Linked DNA regions of Homo sapiens: all the other regions are linked to region 1. Evidence: fine-mapped expression QTL. A gene starts in region 1. Each other region holds a variant in brackets. All regions are shown on one strand. Distances are from middle to middle.

Region 1 (4,243 bases):
CACATGTTGTACACTTTCTCATACATTTTCCTGTTTAAATGCTTTCACATTTCATGGCAACAATCATCTTCCAACTAAAAATAATAAACAAACAATCTTAAACAAGTGCCAGCCTACAGACCCAACAAATTACAAAACGCAAAGAACTTATGGCTACAATCATGAAAACACCTTCCATCCTTATCCAGTTCAAGTAATCACAGAGCATGCAAAAGGATTCAAACCACTGAAAACTGAAAAATGTACTCCAAAAGGTTCTAGAACCAAAAACTAAGAGCTTCTAAATTTTAAAAACAACCAGATGGATTGTAAACCTTTAGGAAAGAAAGGAAAAATGTGCAGGAGAGCACATGAATTCATTAAGAACAGATTATTAATTTTTTTTAACAATATGGTATCTATCAAATAGTAATGGATTAGTGATCCACCACAAATACAATATTTGGTAAATCTTAACTTTTCCAAAACATCTGACAAATTCTTCCAGAATTCCCTTCTGATAAAAATGGGGAAAAATGAGCTAGTAGGCAGGGCGCGATGGCTCACACCTGTAATCCCAGCACTTTGGGAGGGCTAGGCGGGCGGATCACGAGATCAGGAGATGGAGACCATCCTGGTTAACACGGTGAAACCCCGTCTCTACTAAAAATACAAAAAAAAAATTAGCCGGGCGTGGTGGTGGGCGCCTGTAGTCCCAGCTACTTGGGAGGCTGAGGCAGGAGAATGGCGTGAACCCCGGGAGGCGGAGCTTACAGTGAGCCGAGATTGCGCCACTGCACTACAGCCTGGGTGACAGAGCGAGATTCCGTCTCAAAAAAAAAAAAAAAAACAAAAAAAAAAAGTTACTAGATGTTTTAAAAATAACAGCAACCAATTATTGAACACTAGTAAACACTAAGCTAAGTGGTTAGCTTGTGCAATTTGAATAACCATCTTATGAAAGAAGTTATCTCCATTTTACAGTTAAGTGAACTGAAGATTTGCTGTACAATCTGACCACTTTTTCCTGAGTTAAGGGGTGGGAGACCCGGCTAGTACCTACTTTTGTCTAACTCCAAAATCTAAGCGTCTACCCGCTACCAACTCCTGAAACTAAGGAATCACATGTTAGGAACTTCACAAATAAATTTTTAAAACACAAAACTATAATTTCAATAGTGTGCACTTGTCTGTTGGCATAAGTTCTTAATCAGGAATAGAATTAATATCCTATAATACCTGCTGTAGTAGATTTTCCGACTCCACCCTTTCCAGAAGCCACAACTATAACTTGTTTAACACCTTCTATCGGTTTCTGCTTTGGAAGTCCTCGGGACATGATTTGTGTTCTTCTTTGTTTTAGGGTCTCACTCCCGGCGCCAGACAACTTTAAAAAATAATAATAATAAAAAGCCGTTTTAAATAAGCCATCTCCATCATCACACTGTAAAAGCAAAAACAATCTGGGGTTTGCAATTAAGAGGGCTTTCTTTTCTAATTCTGCTCATCTTCACTATGGAGACATTTACCTACTACTACTGATAACAATTGTAAAGACACATTGCTTAAATTGAAATTTTTCTAGCAGGATACGCTGAACGTTTAAAAATGTAAAAACGCTGCCTCTTTACGGAGATAAGGCTTCCACGTGTTTTGCTTTTCTTCAATCTATTTGATAAATAACCCAAAGCCAAGAAAGCAATGTAGAATACCACATCTACGTTCTAACTGTGTTTCAAGTCCCGCCACGCCTCAGCCTGGGCCTGCCTGAAAAGTAGGCACGTCCAGCACACTGGGGGTCTCAGGAACTGAGGCGAGTCTTTGGCAAGAAGCAATGCCAGGGCATCTGCGGCCCTGCAGCCCAGCATCTGTCAGCCCGCTTCCCCCTGCCCTGCAGCACCACGGACCTGGCGCCCACAAACCATCGCTCGGCTTCCCCCAAGCGGGGCAGTGGCCCCGCCACCAGCCCGGAGCGACACCCCACCAAAAAGCAGCAGACGCTGCCAAATCCCCATGACGCGGAACGCTGCTGTGAGCCCTGCTGGGAAACTGTCGCGGGTGGCGCGGAGTGATGACGTCACGGAGCAACGCTCGGCTTTCTCTTCCTAGCAACCGGTCTTCTTTGGGTTTGTTGGCTCAGGAACCCAATCTGCATGATCTTGTTTATAGCCAGCTACAAACATTTTGCAGCGTTTTACTAAACGTTTGTGAAGTGTTGTCATATAAAACATCTCTTATGATACTTACAGAAGTCCCGAGGTAGACAGAAGACTTACCTAGTATACTCTTTTTATGGACAAGAAAACGGAGAAAGTTTAAAGAGACTTGACCCAGCTTAACAAAAGTAGGAAATGGGGGACCTTGAAAATGACCCCAGGATTTCTTACTAAGCAGTATATGGTCATTTAAATACTACCACCGTTAAGGATTTTACCTTTTTATTTTATTTTTTCCCGTGTGATCTACAGTGAGAGTCTGTTTTGCGTTGGTATTCATGGCTTGTGTTGCTGACAGTTCCCTGAAAGAAAGGTCAGGTTGCTTTACCAGCAACCTGGTAAAGAACTTTGCAAGTTCTTCCAGACTTAAGACTCATTTATTTAACAAATATTCGTTGAGCAACTACTATGTACCGAGTACTACAGTAGACTTAAAATATTCAGCATTGAGACCGACATAATTCCTCCACTAAAGGGCTTTATAATCCAGTGCAAAAGACAGAATAAGTTAACAACAAAATTGCGGTATAATATGATAAGTACAGGAGAAAAGCATTGAGGGATACAGGAGAAAGGACAAAGTGATACAAAGAAAGGGCACTCAATTCAATCAGGGGAAGCTTCTAAATTAGGTAATATCTAAGCTGAATGCTGAATCTGAATAATGTGTAGAAGTTAGCTGGGAGAATGGCAAGGAGATTGTTGTAAAGAGGTTAGAAATGGACTGCTAAGGCTAGGCATGGTGGCTCACGCGTGTAATTCCAACACTTTGGGAGGCCAAAGCAAGAGGATTGCTTGAGCCAGGAGTTCAAGGATGCAGTGAGCTATGATTGCACCACTGCACTCCAGCGTGGGCAGCAGAGTGACACCTTGTCAGAAGAAGAAGAAAGAAGGAAGGAGGAAGGAGGAAGAGGAAATTAAAAGGAGAAGAAAGAAGAAGGAAGAAGAAAGAAGAAGAGAGTAGAAGGAAGAAAGATGAAAGAAGAGAGAAAAGCCCCCGCCCGGCCAGCTGCCCCGTCCGGGAGGGACGTGGGGGGCAGCCCCCATCCGGTCAGCCGCCCCGTCCCGGAGGGAGGTGGGGGGCAGACCCCGCCCGGCCGCCACCCCGTCCGGGAGGTGGAGTCACCTCTGCCCGGCCACCCCGTCTGGGAAGTGAGGGGCCCCTCTGCCCAGCCGCCACCCTGTCTAGGAGGTGTACCCAACAGCTCATTGAGAACGGGCCATGATGACGATGGCGGTTTTGTCGAATAGAAAAGGGGGAAATGTGGGGAAAGGAAAGAGAGATCAGATTGTTACTGTGTCTGTGTAGAAAGAAGTAGACATAGGAGACTCCATTTTGTTCTGTACTAAGAAAAATTATTCTGCCTTGGGATGCTGTTAATCTATAACCTTACCCCCAACCCCGTGCTCTCTGAAACATGTGCTGTGTCCACTCAGGGTTAAATGGATTAAGGGCGGTGCAAGATGTGCTTTGTTAAACAGATGCTTGAAGGCAGCATGCTCGTTAAGAGTCATCACCACTCCCTAATCTCAAGTACCCAGGGACACAAACACTGCGGAAGGCCGCAGGGTCCTCTGCCTAGGAAAACCAGAGACCCTTGTTCACATGTTTATCTGCTGACCTTCCCTCCACTATTGTCCTATGACCCTGCCAAATCCCCCGCTCCGAGAAATACCCAAGAATGATCAATAAATACTAAAAAATAAAAATAAAAAAATAAAAAAGATATCAAAAATAAAAATAAAAAAAGAAAGAAGAGAGAAAAGAAGAGAGAACACAAGAGGAGTAGAAAATACATTTCTTTTCTGGATTGTTAAGAACTGTAAATGATCTGTGCAACTTAGGACAAAGTGACTAAAAGAGATGAGGATGGAGTGAAGGTTGGTTAGATGGAGGTTGCCTAAATCAAGAAAGGCTGTATATATCTTGTAAAGAAATTTGGACTTTATCCTAAGGGAACTATAGAAGGATTTTAAGCAGGAAAGTAACATCAGATTTGTGTTTTAGAAATACCACTATGATTACTGGGTTAAAAAAGAAATGGATC
Region 2 (4,243 bases), 150 kb before region 1:
TGTTGTTTTTTTTTCAAAGTCTCAGAGATATCATCAAAGGCCAAGGCTTTGGTCTTTCTATCTTCTTGTTCTGCCACAAAATGGCTACCACTGCCAAGTTGATCATGTCTTTATATTCCCTACAAAGAAAGAGGAAGAACAAAACCTGCCTTTCTATTAGGAAGCAAAACATCTTACATAGAGGCTATCTCCACAGACTGTTCCTTGTGTCTCATTGGTTAGAACTGGTTCACATGGCCACACTCAGCTCTAAGAGCAACTAGATTATCTTTTGACTTTCTAGACCTACTTTTAAGCAGTAAAGAGACAGGGGCTGGGAATAGTTTCTACATAGCCAATCAGTACTGTCTTCCACATGCATGTTTAAATGCTGATGGAAAAGAGTTAGTAAAGACTAAGAACCAGATACAGAAGGGAAGAGGGCAAGAATGAATTCAGATACAGATACATTTTTAAGGAGGCTGGCTGGTAATTGAGAAAGTTTGCACCATATAAATTTAATTTTCTTTGTGAAACAGAAAATGGAATCATGCATTAAAAGTAAAGGGAGAGGTAGAAGGACAGAGGTCTTCAGAATAACAAAGCAGATTTTAAATAGTTCCTACGGAGAATAAAAGAGAGGGCTGCCTAGAATAACAGGTTTCTAAGCAAGAGAGAAAAAAAATAGAAGAAAAATTTCCTACGGGTTGTTGAGCAAGGCTAGAAATCATTAATTCATAGTGCCATCCACATGCCACTTAAAAGGACATCTCTAGCAGCACCCAGCAGCCCAAGCGTAAGAATAGAGAAAGTCGAATGCTGAATCCATTCTAAACTGGAGTTTATGGGTTTAGAGTAAAAGGAATGTACCAATGGGTTTGTGGCACAACTGAAAGGGAAAGATACGAAGGAGCTGAAATTATCAGCAAGCCAGTGACATAATGTGCCATATATAAACATGTTAGGAAAAAAATGAAAGGTACAGAAAGAGTGAAACAGTCAAGGAATCTGACATATAATGGCCTTAATAAAAGAACTCAAAGACGAAAAACTATGGTAAGGTAATTAAGATGAATACTTCAAGGGGATAAAATTCCTGGTGTGCCATGAGAGTGGAGTTCAAGGGCACTCAAGTTGAGAAAGGGAAGAAACTAAAAAGGCTAGTGAAACCAACCCAGTAGTTTTTTAAAATAAATATAGAAATTGACCCTTCTGGTCTTAAAGCTTAAAACTAACGTTTGTCTTATTTAAGTTCCTTTCTCAGGAAATGATCCTCAGCCTTCTCAAAAAGTATCAAAGAACTGAAACTCACCAGATCACCACATCCAGACAATGAGATGGCAGACCCTTCATCCATCAGGTTGCTCCCTTACCCCTCCCTAATTCCTATGTTCCTAAGTGGTCACCTGCTTCTCGTTAACCAGTTCCTCTTCCTTACCCCTCCCTAGTTCCTGTTTTCCCACACATAATTACATTTCTTCCCTGCTATAATAAACCCCCAATTTTAGTTGGTCAAGGAGATGGATTTGAGACTGATCTCCCATTGTCTCAGCTGCTGCACGTGATTAAAGCCTTCTTCCCTGGCAATACTCATTCTCTCAGTGACTGGTTTTCTGTGCAGAGAGCCACAGGACCCAGACCAAACCCCTGATGTTTTGGTAACACTGGTGAGAGGTGACAACATGCTACCAGCCCTCACTCACTCTTGGTGCCCCCTTGGCCTCGGCATCCTCTCTGGCTGCACTCGAGGAGCGCTTCAGCCCGCCACTGTGCTGTGGGGGCCCCTCTCTGGGGCTGGCCGAGGCCGGAGCTGGCTCCCTCTGCTCGCAGGGAGGTGTGAAGGGAGAGGCATGGGTGGGAGCCAGGGCTGCGTGCCTCACTCACAGGCTGGCACAGGTTCTGGGTGGGCACGGCTCCACAGGCCCCGCACTGGGCGCAACCAGCCAGTGCCTGCTGGGCTTGATCAGGGGACGAACTCCCTCTGGGCTGCCAGAGTGCCGGGGCTAGGTGCTGCAAAGTCCTGCGGCGAGTACCA[T/C]TGGTGAAGCCATCTGGGCTTCTGGGTTGGGTGGTGACCTGGAGAACTTTTCTGTCTAGCTAAAGGTTTGTAAATGCACCAATCAGCGCTCTGTGTCTAGCTAAAAGTTTGTAAATGCACCAATCAGTGCTCTGTCAAAACGGACCAATCAGCTCTCTGTAAAATGGACCAATCAGTAGGATGTGGGTGGGGCCAGATAAGGGAATAAAAGCAGGCCACCCCAGCCAGCAGCCAGCAACCCGCTCCGGGTCCCCTTCCATGCTGTGGAAGCTTTGTTCTTTTGCTCTTCACAATAAATCTTGCTGATGCTCATTCTTTGGGTCTGCACCACCTTTACGAGCTCTAACACTCACTGCGAAGGTCTTCAGCTTCACTCCTGAAGCCAGCGAGACCACGAACCCACTGGGAGGGATGAACAACTCCAGACGGGAGGAACAAACAACTCCGGATGTGCCATCTTTATGAACTGTAACACCCACCGCGAAGGTCTTCAGCTTCACTCCTGAGGCCAGCGAAACCATGAACCCACCGGAAGGAATGAACAACTCCAGACGCACTGCCTTTAAGAGCTGTAACACTCACCGCGAAGGTCTGCAACTTCACTCCTGAAGTCAGCAAGACCAAAAACCCACCAGAAGGAAGAAACTCTGGACACATCTGAACATCTGAAGGACCAAACTCTGGACACACCATCTTTAAGAACCGTAACACTCACCGTGAGGGTCTGCGGCTTCATTCTTGAAGTCTGCGAGACCAAGAACCCACCAATTCCAGACACATTTTTGCAACCACGAAGGGACTATCACCTATCGCCAAGCAGTAAGACTATCGCCTATTGCCAAGCAGTAAGACTATCACCTATCGCCGAGCGGTGAGTACCACTGGACCCCTTTTGCTTGCTATTCTGTCCTGTTTCTCCTTAGAATTCAGGGGCTAAATACCGGGCACCTGTCGGCCAGTTAAAAGCTACTAGCGCGGCAACCAGACTAAAGACACGGGTGTCAGGCTTTCTGGGAAGGGGCTCTCTAACATCCCCTGACTCTTTGGAGTTGGGAGCGTTGGTTTGCCTAGAACCAGCTTCCACTTTTCCTGTACTTCTGGGCCGAGCCAAGGGTCGACAGAGAGGAAAGCCATTCAGCTCCGGGGTCCGAACAACAAGTTGGTTGACCCTGTGGCCATGAGCGGAACCCTCAAAGGCATGTCGCCCAAGCGAGACTCACCCATCTATCCTATCTATCCTGACCCTTGCCTCCTGGGTCCTAATGCCTGTCAGACAAACTTCCCCTCACCTCTCTTCTCCGAGGTTAGTCCTGCTTCTAAAAATCACTCCCTGTCTCTGGTGCTTTTCTAGTTTCTCCTATAAGAATGATTTCTAGTATAAACTCCAGGACTCTATTTCCTTCTTTAGGCACCCAGGCTCACCAATCAGAAAGACATAATTTTTCCCAAAGCCCCATTGTAGGGGGAACTATCCGGAATTTTAGGATCCCTCCTCAGACAAGCAGGCCTAACAAAAGCTATTCCTGAAGCTAGGATATGGGGAGCCTCAGAAATTGTATCCTTCCTATTCATATAAGTGAAGACAAAAGGTGTCACTCTTCCAACCCTGGAGATCCCTTCCCTCCATCAGGGTATGGCCCTCCACTTCATTCTGGGGGCATAACATCTTTATAGGACACGGGTAAGGTTCCAGTACTAACAGGAGAATGTTTAGGACTCTAACAGGTTTTCGAGAATGCGTCTGTAACAGCCACTAAATCTGATTTTTCTCTGTCCTCCTTGTGGTCTAGGAGGACAGGAAAGGGTGCAGGTTTTCGAGAATGCGTCAGTAAGGGTCACTAAATCCGACCTTCCTTAGTCCTCCTTGTGGTCTGGGAGAAAAGCTAGTGTTTCTGCTGCTGCGTTGGTGAGCGCAACTATTCCGATCAGCAGGGTCCAGGGATTGTTGTGGGTTCTTGGGCAGGGGTTGTTTCTGCTGCTGCATCGGTGAGTGCAACTATTCCAATCAGCAGGGTCCAGGGACCATTGCAGGTTCTTGGGCAGGGGGAGAAACAAACAAACCAAATCTGCGGGCGGTTTTGTCATTCAGATAGGAAACACTCAGGCATCAACAGGCTCACCCTTGAAATGCATCCTAAGCCATTGGGACCAATTTGACCCATAAACCCTGAAAAAGAGGTGACACATTTTTTTTCTGTGCTACAGCCTGACCCCAATACTCTCTCTCTG
Region 3 (4,243 bases), 71 kb before region 1:
GAAGTCAGTGTGGCGATTCCTCAGGGATCTAGAACTAGAAATACCATTTGACCCAGCCATCCCATTACTGGGTATATACCCAAAGGACTATAAATCATGCTGCTATAAAGACACATGAACACGTATGTTTATAGCAGCACTATTCACAATAGCAAAGACTTGGAACCAACCCAAATGTCCAACAATGATAGACTGGATTAAGAAAATGTGGCACATGTACACCATGGAATACTATGCAGCCATAAAAAATGATGAGTTCATGTCCTTTGTAGGGACATGGATGAAATTGGAAATCATTATTCTCAGTAAACTATCACAAGGACAAAAAACCAAACACCGCATGTTCTCACTCATAGGTGGGAATTGAACAATGAGAACACATGGACACAGGAAGGGGAAGATCACACTCTCGGGACTGTTGTGGGGTGGGGGGTGGGGGGAGGGATAGCATTAGGAGATATACCTAATGCTAAATGACGAGTTAATGGGTGCAGCAAACTCAACATGGTACATGTATACATATGTAACTAACCTGCACATTGTGTACATGTACCCTAAAACTTAAAGTATAATAATAATAAAATTAAATTAAAAAAAAAGAACTGATTTTGTCGCTTTTCTTCTTTTACTGTATTGCCCACCATTTTATATTGGGTGACTAAAAGTGCATTCACTATATCCCTTCAGAATATGCCTGGACACAACGTTCAAACCTGGGAACCCTAAGCAGGTGGGATACTGACAAAGTGATCCATGGCTAGAAAGGCAACCAGAACGGCAATTATATCGAAAATTGCATTATATAAGAAAAAGCTAAAGACCTAAAGTTGTTTTTCTGAGCTCATCACAGTGTGCAAATATTTCAGAGGTTATCAAAGGAAAAAGAATTAGGTGATTCTCATGAGGACAGGACTAGGAATAATATGTGAAAGTTATTAGGAAGCAAGTTTTTGACCAAAATAAGGAAAAACCAGTTAATAAATAGAGCTGTCATGGAACAACAAAATCTCCCTCAGTGTTGATGCCAGACCATTATTTATAATGCATTTGTGGATTCTGTAACTCTGAATATCTACAACGAGCAAAAGCTTTGCATAATAAAATCACTGAAGGTAATCAGAAGATCCTGGTTCTTATGTTGGCACTTCACTAATAATGCGCGTGACTGAATCTCAATCATTAAATAAGCTATGTGACTGTATCTAAATCTCATCAGTAAAATAAACTTGCAAAGATCTCTCCAAGCTCTAAAATGTTATAAAACTACGACTAATTTCTACTCAGTTATTAAAATGCTCAAATATGTTTCTGAAATTTTTTAAAAGTGTTTTATTTTTAGAATACGTTATATGTTTGGTGATAATCTGTGGTTATGTGTGGTAACAGCACCACTGCACCATGCAACCCACCTCGGCTGCCAGTTGCAAGAGGTGAAGGTGGTTTGAAGATACTGCTGCAGAGAGGTAGGTCAAAGGCCATGCACTATGCACCTAAAAACAGGACTGAATTTCCACAAACTGAGTGGCATACACAGCCAAAGATGCAAAGCAGCAGCATCTTTCCTGGATGCTCCAAATTTGTTGCTAATTACCAGATATCACCCAGTAAATGTTCACCCATTCTGTTTATAGCAAAGAAT[G/T]CCTCACACTGAGCTTCCTCTAAATGACTTACAGAAAGTCTGAATTAAACCTAAAATTACCCATCCATGTCTATTAATAATTTAAAAGTAGAAATATGTAAAATATAGATTAACATATAAATATTTGCCACTACTATGCTTCAATGTTAAATAAACCACTTTTATGGACGTGAATATTTTCTTCTTTCCCTATGGATACTTTTCTTAAAATACAGTGTGGATTATGGAGTATCTAAATCCTGACCTATTACTACAATGGGCAAACTTGATTAATTTTTAATATCACCAGCTTTATCAATAAAATAACAGCATCTGCTGATGAGTTTAAACAACTCTGGATAATTTAACATTATTTCTTCTTGCTTTCATCAGTTCTTCAGAACATACATGGAAGACTACTTTGGGAGTATTAGAAAGGCAAGAAAATAATAATCTATAAACTATTTTTTCTCTCATTTCAAACTTTGTGTATCTTGAAACACCTGTTTCTAAAGGAAAGGGGCCAGGCAGCTACTCCAACCTAGCTGTCTTTGCCAAATATTTCCAACTGCCCCTCCAGTTCACTCTGCCCGCTGCCGCCCCAGGGGTTTCTATACAGACTGCCTCAAAAGCAGGAGATCAGAAAGAAGGAGGAGAGGGTGGTCAAGGAATTTAATTTCCTGGCTTCCTCTCTGTAGGGTAGCCCCAGGCTGGCTAGGTCCTCCACCAAGTGTCATTGTTCCTCCGAAGGCAGACATCTCTACAAGACTCTCTCTCAGATTTGGATACTCCTTCCCCCCAACTCTTCAGGTGTAGGGACAGTAAACTGCTCCAGTATTGCTCATCAGTTACTATCCTATCTGTTGTTGTTTCCCTACACTTCTCCCACATCTTGTAAATAGTCCCTCTCAAATTATTCTGAATATGCTATGTGTTTTGGTTGGAAAGTAGCCCCAGGAAACAACCGTCAAAATGAGATTGAGATTAATCTAGAAACTCCAGGATTATCTCCATGCTGGGAGGAAATGGGAACACAGGTACTGATTCATTATTATACAACTTAGATGAAGGGCAACCCTAAGAGTTTGAGGAGTATGATGATTAATTTTTATGTCACTTTGGGCCACCGTATACCCATAAATTTGGTTAAATATTATTCTGGGTGTGTCTGTGAGGATGTTTCTGGATGAGATTAACATTTGAATTGGTAAACTAAGTAATTCAGGTTGCCCGCCTTCATGTGGGTGGGCATCATCCAATCCATTGAAGCCCTGAATAGAAAAAAAAACGGGGGTGGAATAAGGGAGAATTCACTCTCTGCCTATCTTTGAGCTTGGATGTCGGTTTTCTGCCTTTGGACGTGGACTTGGACTCAGACTGGAATTTACAGCACCTAAAACTTATATCATTGGCTATACTGGTTCTTAGACCTTTGGATTCATACTGGAACTACACCATTAGCCCTTCTGGGTCTCCAGCTTGCTGAATGTAGATCTTGGGACTTAGCCTCCATAATTATGTGAGCCAATTCCTTATAATAAATCTCTTTGTGTGTGGGGGGTGGGGTGGGGGTGTGTGTGTGTGTATTATTGGTTCTATTTCCCTGGAGAACCCATACTAATACAAGTGGCTATGGCACTTAATTGCTATAAAAACAAACGTGATTATACAGATGATGGATTCATCTGACTTTTTAGTGGTGTAGAGAATACATAGAGGGAAAAAAAAGTAACAGCTATAAATGGAGCTTTGCTCCTGGCCATAAAAGAGCAACAGAAATGGGACTTAACCCCTGAGTAGCCCCCCAACCCACACACACACAGACACCTGTAAAAAACTAGAAAACTGGACAAAACATAAAAACTATGTTTTAGACATGGAATTACAGCAGGGAAGACTATAACTCCTGAAAAAAGAAAAACAAGTGAGATGAGCTCTATGACTGCCCCAGTTTATTGTCCTGGAGACAGCTTCCAGGCTGAAAAACAGGGAGGGAGAATCCAAACAGAGCCCATTCATCTTGGTGAGTTGAGAAAAGAAAATGAGAGTTAGGGGAAGCCAAGGCAGCTGGAATTTATGGAGCAGAATACTGGGGAGAAAGGAGACATAGAGAGAGAACTCCCCACAACTGCAGAGGGGTCCTGTGGAGTTTTCACATGAATGAGAAAAATTACCCAATGGTGGGGAAAGAATCACTGGAGATACAAGCTGTATAATTCCCAGAGATTGCACACAGCTGAGAACAGTTTATGTTCCCATCAGTCAAAGGGGAAAGATCTCACAATACATGGAGCATTGGGTAGAGAGTCATTAGAAAGATATTGCCTTAGTAAAGGGGTAAATTAGCCCTTGACACTAAAGGCTGCTCTGGACCCACCCAAGGAAGCTCAAAAGCCTCAAAATAACCAAACTGATTCCAGGTAACTTAAATGCATACGACAGAAACTGGAAAACTGTTCTATAAAGGGGCAGATGATAAATATTTTAGGCTTTGAAAGAGGTATATGGAGGGACTTCTAGAACTAGGCAGAGTGTGTCAAGATATTCATGATCTATAAATGTCAACAAGAACACATAATCATCTTACACCAAAGACTAGGTCACCAACTAATGGCATTCACTGAT

What was found. PIP is the estimated chance that this variant, and not a neighbour inherited with it, causes the effect. A credible set is the group of variants that fine-mapping cannot tell apart.
Region 2: its variant is the best candidate, but not a certain one, in a credible set for the expression of NUBPL in nasal epithelium (TOPMed, PIP 0.59).
Region 3: its variant is the best candidate, but not a certain one, in a credible set for the expression of NUBPL in fibroblasts (GTEx, PIP 0.70).

The regions. Positions count from the first base shown.
Region 1 is chr14:31,559,191-31,563,433 of GRCh38, reverse strand. It overlaps NUBPL (NUBP iron-sulfur cluster assembly factor, mitochondrial), which reads right to left and starts at 2,030. Exons shown (of 11, transcript NM_025152.3): 1 at 1,887-2,030; 2 at 1,219-1,366. The coding sequence starts at 1,994. NUBPL-DT (NUBPL divergent transcript) reads left to right here and starts at 2,103. Exons shown (of 3, transcript XR_943720.2): 1 at 2,103-2,323. RefSeq lists enhancers at 1,306-1,861, 1,788-2,187.
Region 2 is chr14:31,710,094-31,714,336 of GRCh38, reverse strand. The region is part of intron 6 of NUBPL (NUBP iron-sulfur cluster assembly factor, mitochondrial); the gene reads right to left. Among named protein-coding and RNA genes, the nearest start is that of NUBPL, 150 kb to the right of the region's middle. RefSeq lists an enhancer at 3,883-4,243. The variant T/C (reference allele first, on the strand shown) is at 2,015.
Region 3 is chr14:31,630,430-31,634,672 of GRCh38, reverse strand. All of the region lies in intron 4 of NUBPL (NUBP iron-sulfur cluster assembly factor, mitochondrial), which reads right to left. Among named protein-coding and RNA genes, the nearest start is that of NUBPL, 71 kb to the right of the region's middle. The variant G/T (reference allele first, on the strand shown) is at 1,640.